Regions from separate parts of the Homo sapiens genome. Here regions 1 and 2 are each reported to be linked to region 3. Evidence: microRNA targets listed by miRTarBase, many of them from high-throughput screens and not tested one by one. Region 3 holds a microRNA gene; each other region holds the end of a gene's coding sequence.
Evidence for each region. The annotated mature microRNA hsa-miR-514b-3p reads AUUGACACCUCUGUGAGUGGA and lies in region 3 at 1,203-1,223, shown strand. An mRNA with a match to its seed (bases 2 to 7 or 8) in the 3' UTR can be bound and repressed. Matches are read on the target gene's strand: a 7mer-m8 pairs with bases 2 to 8, a 7mer-A1 pairs with bases 2 to 7 and ends in A, and an 8mer does both.

Region 1: the mRNA of COPS7B is a reported target of hsa-miR-514b-3p. Seed matches in the 3' UTR shown: 7mer-m8 at 1,864-1,870.
Region 2: miRTarBase lists TP53RK as a target of hsa-miR-514b-3p. Seed matches in the 3' UTR shown: 7mer-A1 at 2,342-2,348.

What each region holds. Positions count from the first base shown.
Region 1 is chr2:231,807,341-231,810,599 of GRCh38, reverse strand. It overlaps COPS7B (COP9 signalosome subunit 7B), which reads right to left. Exons shown (of 7, transcript NM_022730.4): 7 at 1,347-3,113. The coding sequence ends at 2,955. It also overlaps the pseudogene GAMTP1. Among named protein-coding and RNA genes, the nearest start is that of COPS7B, 23 kb to the right of the region's middle.
Region 2 is chr20:46,683,866-46,687,124 of GRCh38, forward strand. TP53RK (TP53 regulating kinase) reads right to left here. Exons shown (of 2, transcript NM_033550.4): 2 at 500-3,259. The coding sequence ends at 2,888. It also overlaps a transcript of SLC13A3 not described here. Among named protein-coding and RNA genes, the nearest start is that of TP53RK-DT, 3.8 kb to the right of the region's middle.
Region 3 is chrX:147,248,125-147,251,383 of GRCh38, reverse strand. It overlaps MIR514B (microRNA 514b), which reads left to right and starts at 1,154; the gene lies at 1,154-1,233. The region is part of intron 2 of LOC105373347 (periphilin-1); the gene reads right to left.

The DNA of each region.
Region 1 (3,259 bases), not on the chromosome of region 3:
TCGCTTTGATGGGATCCTGTATGACGCGTACCCACTGTAGAAGGAGACCTGGCACACACTAGCTCAACTTCATTGAGAACCACACTTTTCACCTGCTGAAGCTGAAGGGAGTATTGCCCTCACCTCCTGCTACCTCACCTCCTACAGGCAGCTGATGAAGTCCAAGTACTCAGATGTCACCACCATCTGAGACGCAGGTGCCTGTGCTATTGGAGGCAAACTTTCGGGGGAAGAACATCCTCAGGGCAGTGATAGCATTGGTCTTGCAGATGATCATGTCGTCCCTGGTCACCAAGCCTTCAGCCCACACAGACCTGGCCAAACAATCCTCTGCCACCCCTCCTCAGTGGCTGGGAGCTCAGGCTCTGGCCTATCATGGCTCCATGACTGATCCTGGCTGTGTCACTGGGCAGCTTTTCTGGCCTCTACAATGGGAACACTACTGCTTCCCCGCCAGGGTCCTTGAGGGCAAAATCAACACTAACACTGGGCTTGCCCCTCCCTCCCTCAAAATAAAGGCAAGATGAACTCTCAGAGGAACAGCAGCAGGTAGAGGGGTAGCAAGGATCAAGTGTGGAGAGCAGACTCTAGATGAGAATGTAACACAGCAGATGACAGGATGTGCAAGTCAGGAGATCTAAGAGTTCTCCTTCTGCCAGTTACCACTGGGACACTTCAAATCTTTGAGATTGTCTTCTCATATGCAAAGCGAAGATGGCTGAATACCCTTACCAACCTCAGAAGGCTGTTTGGGTGGAAGGGACTGAATGACTTATTGTATGCAAACACACTTTGTAAAGCACTTTAGAGACAAGTTATTATTGTCGCCATCATTATTTTTAAGGAAGGTGAATCATGGAGAGGACCCTTAGGGCCTTGGGGCAATCAAATAAAGAATGGTCACAGACTTCATACAAGTCAAACCATGTTTCCTAGTCTACTTGCCAGTGGGAAAAACAAGAATGAAAGAAAACTTGCTGAGAGTGACTGTTTGAGGTCTAGAAAGAATAGCTGGGAAAACCTGTAAGGTTGAAAGGTGTTCAGCTTCTCTTAGGGTTTTATTTGTAGCAGAGATGGGATCTCACTATGTTGTGTGGACTGGCCTCAAACTCCCGGGCTCAAATGATCCTCCCACCTCAGCCTCCCAAAGTGTTGGGATTACAGGCATGAGTCACTGCGCCCAGCACTCTTAGGCTTCTTCAGAAATATACTTTCCCCAAAATTTCCCTAAGATTTGTTCCACCTAGATATTACCCAAAAGGATTTGGCGGTAAAATCGATGTGGGTACAGGCTTCCTCAACAAGGAATGCTTGGACACCTGAGTAATGAATTTCCAATGAGGATATGGGATGCAGGGAGTGCAACATTTATTTCATAACAGAACCCCTTTTCCACAGAGCAGCTGACAGGGGGCTGCATGAAACATACTTTGGAAATTAAAGTGAACTCTCCACTTGGGCATAATGTTATGTGGGCACATGGATTGGCTTAAAAGGGAAACAAGAATACTTCAACATTTGATCAACAGTAGGCAGTTGCTGGACATTTTAGAAAAAGGAGAAATCCATTTTTTGACCATGGCTAAACATGGGGAAACAGCATCACATTTTCCTGAACCACCCTAATCCCAGCCCCTCAAGATCCACCAGGTATGCAACCCCAAACCCCAGTCACATACATTAAATCTACACTTTTATTTTTTTGTTGTAAAATGTGCTTTTTCCTCAATGAACTTTAATCAGTCCAGGACCTACAAACACACACACACACACACACACACACACACACACACACACACACCCCACCCCACCCCCACCCTCCAACCAGGTGAAAAATCCCCGGCGATTAGTCTATAACAAATATTGACACGAGGGGGGACAAAAGCATGTTGAAATGTATTAGAATCAGAACCTGTACAAAAAAAAAAAAATTAAAATATAACCTGAAACTGTTCAAGTTCAGAAGTCTAGTTAAGTCTTTTTCTCTTGCCAGGAGAATGCCATCATCAGAGGGCTCTGGGTCATCAGCCAAGGAGGGGTGAAAAGACAGAAGCAGCAACAGGTCCTTCAGCAGACAGAGGGGCATCGATGCCACCATCCCTACCCAGGTGCAGCCAGGAGGAGTTAAAGATCTTGGGAGAGCAAGCATTAGCCGGCAGTTCCAGTGGGCAGCTGGGGCCTACACACCGAAAACAAGGCTGAGTAGTCAGAGGCAGCAGGAAGAGTGGCCAGGAGAGAACGCCAAGCCGGAAGGAACCATTTCTGCCACCCAGCAGACCCACAGCACCCTCTGTCTGTGCTCAGATACCAGAGGTTAGTCAACCCAGCGCTCTCAACTAATTGGAGATCGGAGCTGGGCTTAAGAGGCTGAAAACCCGTGGGTTTAGTAAACACAGCCCAGCATCACGTCCCTCCACGGCCTGAACTGGAGCTGCCAACAAGGGATGAGGCAGGAGAGGGAAAGCAGCGCATCTTGACGCCTGGCTAGAAATCACTGCACCATCGTGAGGACTGTGGTACCAGGGGCTGGAGAGGAGTGCCCCCTCCTCACAAGGGGAGGGGCCTCCTTCACAATCATCCCTGGGGGCTGGTTAAAGCTGCCTCCGGCTTATAACCAGCCTGACAAAATGACGTGGAGCAAAAGAAAAACTGGGAGGGAGACAAGCCCTTACACAGAGACAAGAACCTCCTGGAGGGAAGCTGGGCAGTGTCTGACCCTGTTTTGGGATGGCATTGGTGGAGCCCCTGAGTCTGAAGGGAACAACTGGGGAAGGAGGGAGTGGGTGAGGGGGAGTAACAGTTTTTCTGGAACAGTACCAACAGGGTGGGGAGGCGCTGGTGAGGGGACGGGCAGGTCTGGAACTCACTGCAGGTAGAGAGGGGAGGAAATGGGCCCTTGGTGTCCCCTCCCCACCTGACCCAGGCCTGGTGAGTGCCAGCTGCCCCAGCCGGCCCTAGTGGCGGCTGGAGACCAGACCTTTCACTTTGGACATCTTCTTGGTGGGCTGCCTCTGCTCAGCGTGAGGGGGACACTCCCGTTCAGCCAGCTGCTGCTCCATCTCCTGAGCCGAGGAGGATGCGGTGGCTTTGAGTGTCTTCTTGATGTTGGTAACCTGGTGGGGAGATATAGAATTGGAGTGCTCAGCCTGTATGTGCTCACCAAAACTTGCTCTCACTATGTCTTCACTTCAGACAGGAAGCTAAAATCCTCTGCAAGAAAACCTGAAATTCTCTTCAGAAATCCAGATGAGCAGAAACG
Region 2 (3,259 bases), not on the chromosome of region 3:
TTACTGGACCAGCTGGTTTCGGTCGCCTTTTCACTTCCAGGTTTCTTGCTTCCACTCTTGCCCTCTATGGTTTTCTGCCAGCAACCAATGCAACCCTTTCAAAACAATCAGGTATCACCCTGTTAAAAACCCTGAGTCCCATTAAGAACAAAACCCAACCTTGTAACAGGGCCCTGCAGGATCCGGCCCCGCCTCTCCCATCTCATGTTCTGCTCCTCCCCCTTGCTCACTAATGCCGGCCACACCAGCCTTGCTGTCGGGGATGTTTCTTCTTCGCCAACTTCGCACGCCACAGCCTGCCTGGGATATACTCTCTTCATCTCCTGTGTTTCTGGTTTTCCTTCACATCTTCACTCATCACTGTCTGAAACTGTCTTATGTTCCCCAGGAAAGTAAGCTTCATGTTCCCCTCTATTAGATCTCCAGTGCCCGGCGCATAGTGAGTACTAGTGTATTAGTCCGTTCTCACACTGCTGATAAAGACATACCCGAGACCGGGTAATTTATAAAGGAAAAGTTTAATAACTCACAGTTCAGCATGGCTGGGGATGCCTCAGAAAACTTATAATCATGGCAGATGGGGAAACAAACACACCCTTCTCCACGTGGCAGCAGGAAGTGCCGAACAAGAGGGAAAAGCCCCTTATAAAACCATCAGATCTCGTGAGAACTCACTCGCTATCACGAGAACAGCACGGAGGTAGCCGCCCCGAGGATTAAATTACCTCCCACTGGGTCCCTCCCATGTCACGTGGGGATTACGGGAACAATTCAAGATGAGATTTGGATGGGGACACAGCCAAACCCTATCAACTAGGGATTTGTTGACTTAATGCACACGAGCCAACCATACCCCAACAAAGCAGGTACTAGCCTTATAGTACACGTGAGGAAACTGAGGAATGAGGCATCTCATTCATGTTGGGAATATTAATTGAAAAACCTGTCAGCTCCTGTGGCCCTTGGAGTTCCTTGAAAATAATGTTATACGCCAATACTTATTATAGTACTGTAAAGATGCACCATATCCCATATCTCATTTGTCAGTGGAAAGAACACAGATTTGGAGCCAGGTAAAAGTACCTCTTGCTACCTGTGACGTCTTGGACAAGTTCCCACCTTTTGGGGCCAGTTTCTCCATCTATAAAATGGGGATAATGCCTAACTTAAGAGTTATTTTAGATCCAATATAAAAATTCCCAGCCCAATGCCTGGCATGCAGTAAGCAGGCAATTATATTATTTTTCCTCTCTACTAGTCACAACTACCCAGGAAGGGAAGTTTTCACTCATTCCTGGCCATCCGCCCCATGCTGGGCACTTGGGGCATGCTGACTGTGGTGAATGAAACAGACAGGGTACTGGTCCTACTATTATAGAATGTTTGCTTCATAAGAACAGGCACTGACTGTATCATCTCTGAACACAATGGAATGAAGCTGGCAATAACAAAAGAAAAATTGGAACATTTACAAATGTGTGGAAATTAACAGATTTCTAAACAATCAAGGGGTCAAAGAAGAAATCACAAGGGAAATTAGAAAATACTTTGAGATGAATGAAAACAAAAACACAAAATACCAAAACTGAGAGTGTGTGATGACAACAGTGTGCAGAGGGAAATTCATAGCTGCAAATGTCCATATTAAGAAACAAGACAGTAACTATGTGAGGTGATGGGTGTTAATTAGCTCAGCTGTAGCAATCATTTCATAATGTATATCAAAACATCCCACTGTATACTTTATACTTTTTTATAAAAATAAATATTCTTACAAAAGGACAGGCGCTGTGTCTGTCTGGCTCACCATTGTACCCAATACCCAACAGGGTGCCAAGTACCCAATACCCAACAGGGTGCCAAGGAACACAAAAGGCACTCAAAATATGTTTGTTGATTGGAGTTTACAAGGAAGAAAGGTATTTTCTTATCCCTCTCTTCCCTTCCCACCCAAACATAGCTTCTTCTAAGAAAAGAAACTGAGGCTGGGCAAGGTTAAAAGCTAGCTCCTGGTACTTTTGCATCCACACTCAGTTTACCTGTGCCTTAAACCAGACTTCATCAAACTTCAGTCTTCACAAGTCACTTCACCATTTTTGCTCTACCTACTTACTGCCTGTGATAGAAATCAACTCAGTTTGTTTAGCGGTATAAACTTAAAAGGAACTTTAGATCAATCACTTGTCTTAGAAGGTAACCACAAAAATACAAAGCAATAAAAATAAAAACATGTTAACATGAATTTCAGTTGCCTGAAAGCTGTAAGTCTGCTTTTTTAAAAGAGAAATTGGAGTTAAGCAGACTTTTCATTTTTTGATCATGACCCTGAAAGAGAAATATATTTGACATCAAAACTCAGCACATATCCTTGGTCTATATATACACGTGAAAGTTTCATAAAACAATACACTGATATTTTCCATGCTGTATTCTATTTCATTTTTTAAAATGCTGGTTGTATCCCATTAAACTGGTTTCAAAATAAATATAACATGTACACAACAACAACAAAAAAAAACACTGGGTTAGAGGGCCAGTAAGCTCAGCGAGTATCAGCAACTGAGACTTCATCCTTGTCTCACAAGGACTAAAAAGAGAATAATGTTCTCATTATGTGGTTCAATGCCACACCCATGTATCTGAGATATACATGTCACAATCTGGGAGAAGCCTGTCCTCAATTTACTTTAAATACCCAATTCTGCCTAGAACATGACTTAGACACATAGTAAGCTCTTGAGTGAAGTGCAGATGATAATGACACGATCACATACCACTTAAAAATATCTTAACACCTTTACTTAGATCTCATCTCATACTTGTAGCATTTCTTCAAATTTACTTTGAAAAAAGAGCTTCACTGTGTGTGGTTGTCATACACATTCTTCTACCCAACCATGGACCTCTTTCTTCCTCTCAGGCGCACTTCATCTAATTTTTTTAGCACTGGCCTGGCCTTTTTGGAGGAGGTGGAGTAGCTCTTCAGAAAGGCTTCAAACACAGTTTCAGTGTTGGGATGGGTACTGAGGAAGGCCTTCTCCAGGACATAGAGGTCTACTCCCTTATCCTCTGGAAGTGCTGAAATGAAACTCAGCCCAAAGTCTATGAGCACAATGTTCAGCTGTTCCAGGGGGGGTTTCAGGAGCATGTTGGAGGTGGTGAGATCACCATGAATGAGGTCTTCATCGTGCATTCGAGCCAAAACCTGCCCAATTGTCTTGGCTAAGTTGGAGAGACCCTGGGGAGTTTTTTCAGTCTC
Region 3 (3,259 bases):
TAATTTTTGACTGGTAGCAACTTCACATTTTAGGCTACTTACAATCACCTCTTTCTTCCATCCCAGTTCTCTGACATCCATTTACCATATTTGTGTTACTATATTTTGGTGTCCCAGATTTAGTTCATCCAGGAAAATGAAGACACATAGTTGCATGTTTCCAAATGGAGAAAAATGCAAACAAAAATGCTTGAAAAGACCACGCTCGAGGGAAAGACTCAGAAATCTCACAAACTGGAAGAAGTTTAATGGCATCCATAGATGCCAAGAACATTTTCTGTTTTGCAGTTCATTCCTGGTAAGTAAAATATTTTTATTTTTGCTCTAGGATTTAAGGAGAAACAGACATTTCTACTCTCCATCACATCAGTGATTACCATCCTATCCTAGAATCTTGTGTGTTTTCCCTGCTTATTCTGTGGTTCAGGAGTTGAGGGATGTAACTCAGGTAGAGGGACTCATCTTCAGGTGACGAGCATAGATGACATAGAGTATATTTTCCTGTTAACTATTAGACCTGAGGAATGTAAACTGCTTTCTAACACTTTATAATAATGGAAAAAATAAACAGGATAAGACATGCAAGGATTTTTCTTCCGTGCACAAGAGAGTCTAGCAGAAAAGCTTAATGGTTCATAGTTCTGAAAATTGCCATGTCATAACTCCAAACCATGATTGGACAACACAGGAAAGGATGGATGAAGAAAGACAGTGTAGTGCATGCTACAGAGGCCCTTTGTATGAACACCAGTCACCAATCAGATTGAAAACAATGATGTGTTTTTGAAAGATGCATGTTGGTCAAAGAGTACAAACTTTGAGTTACGTAATAGATAAGCTCTGGCTATCTAATGTATAGCATAGTGATAATAATGCTGTAATTGTTTACTGGAAATTTGATAAGAGAGCAGATTTTAAGTGTCCTCACCACACCCCCACAACACACACACAAATGGTAACTAAGAGCGGTGAATGATGTGTTAGTTAATTTTACTATGGTAATCAGTACGCGATGTATATACATATCAAATCACATTGCACACCTTGAATATATACAAATTTTGTTTGTCAATTACATATTTTTAAAATATAAAAAGAAAGGTGCATGAGTCAGTCATTAGGCTGGGCTGCCATCCTTAAGTGTTCTATTCTTCATGTGGTACTCTTCTCAAGAGGGAGGCAATCATGTGTAATTAGATATGATTGACACCTCTGTGAGTGGAGTAACACATGATATATACATCATATGACATGGCATGGTGGATACACGGGGCGTGTTAAGTTGCAAGCAGTATAATACTTTCCCTAGAATGCAGACATTTCTACTGACACCCTCCCTGTTCTGGACTAGCTCAGTTAATTCTCTAAATTAATTATCAGACGTAAGACCTAGAAACTGAAAGTCTGAGGAAAAACTTCCCATTGAGTTTCTTCTGAGATTCAGATCCCTTTTGCCAAAGTTGCTTGACCAAAATGGTAACAAGCCTTTCACTGTCTTCATGGTGTTCCTGTCACCTATAAAGTGTTTTTTCTTTTGTAAGAACCTATTCCCAACCGTAGCCTGCAAATCTCTTAACTTACCACCTATCGACATTCCTCTTCATTTTTAAGATTTTCCCCTTAGGCATCCATCAGTTCCCTCCCTTCTCAGATCCTTACCCTACTAAAGACCAAAGTATTTTTTTTCTCCCAGGTATTAAAGCTCCTTTTTTTTTTTTTTTTGGTAATTATTTCTGGTCTTTTCTGGTCTTTTTTTTAACTTTTATTTTAAATTCAGTTGTACATATGCAGGATGTGCAGGTTTGTTATATAGGTAAACATGTGTCATGCAGGTTTGTTGTACAGATTATTTTATCACCCAGGTATTAAGCCTAGTATCCATTAGTTATTTTTCCCGATCCTACCCTTCCTCCCACCTTCCACCCTTTGATAGGTCCCAGTGTGTGTTGTTCCCCTCTATGTGTCCATGTGTTCTCATCATTTAGCTCCCACTTACTTATGCATGAGAACATGCCATATTTGGTTTTCTGGTCCTGTGCTAGTTTACTGAAGGTAATGGTCTCCAGTTCCATCTATTTCCCTGTAAAGGACATGATCTCATTCTTTTTTTATGGCTGCATAGTATTTCATGGTGCATATGTACCACATTTTCTTTATCCAGTCTACCATTTATGGGCATTTAGGTGAATTCCATGTCTTTGCCATTGTGACTAGTGCTGCAGTGAACATACTCGTGCATGTATCTTTATAATAGAACAGTTGATAATCCTTTGGGTATATACCCAGTAATGGGATTGCTGGGTCAAATGCTATTTCTGGTTCTAGGTCTTTGAGGAATTGCCACACTGTCTTCCACAATGGTTGAACTAATTTACACTCCCACCAGCAGTGTAGAAGCGTTCATGTAGTTTTTGTTTTTATTCTGTTTATGTGATGAATTCTAAGCTCTTAATGCACAGGAATTCAGTGAATCTTTACAAGAACCTTATGAAGTAGGAGCTGTTATATCCACTCTCATTTTACTAATAAGACAAGAAAAATAATTTTAATAAATGCCTTATGATCACACAGCTATCAAGAAGCAGAGCTTGTATTTGAGCCCAGGCAGCCACTCTACAGTGTCCCCTTTTTTACATCAACTCACTGCCCTCCCTTAGTTTCTTTTCTTCTAAATCCAGCACTAGAATGTATTAAACATTTGATTCAGCTCACAGCTCACAGTTCCTTATGTAGAGCTTTGATAATGGCCCTGCTCACAAAACAAAGAGGCTCTGACAAAACACACAAGTATTCACGTCGGAAGGGTGAAAAGGATCTGGATTGGAATCCAGTGCACTTGCATCCAGGATCTTCAGCCCTCATCAGAGGACATCACGATGTCTGGTTATGTTTGTCTACTAATGTCTCCTTGAGGTTGAGCCACTGGGTATAAAATTAGATAGCAGGTTTAAATTTTTGTACGTACATATAGATACTTAAATTATTTTCATTTACTGGACCACATCCAGGTTTGAGGCTAAAGTATATCCCCATTTTTACATGGTTACATTATTATGAGGGTTAAAACCAGCAATACGTTCTAGTTGTTGGTTGACATTAAGTAGCAGTCCTCATCTCAAAAAATAGGAAAACCCCACCTTTCTCTGCGTTGCTAGAGAGGGAGGCCTGCCTTCAACCCTGCCTTCTTTCCTTTTACAGTCAGTGATGAAAGCTATACCTAGGTATTAGTTATTGAAACCACCATCATCATGCCATTACT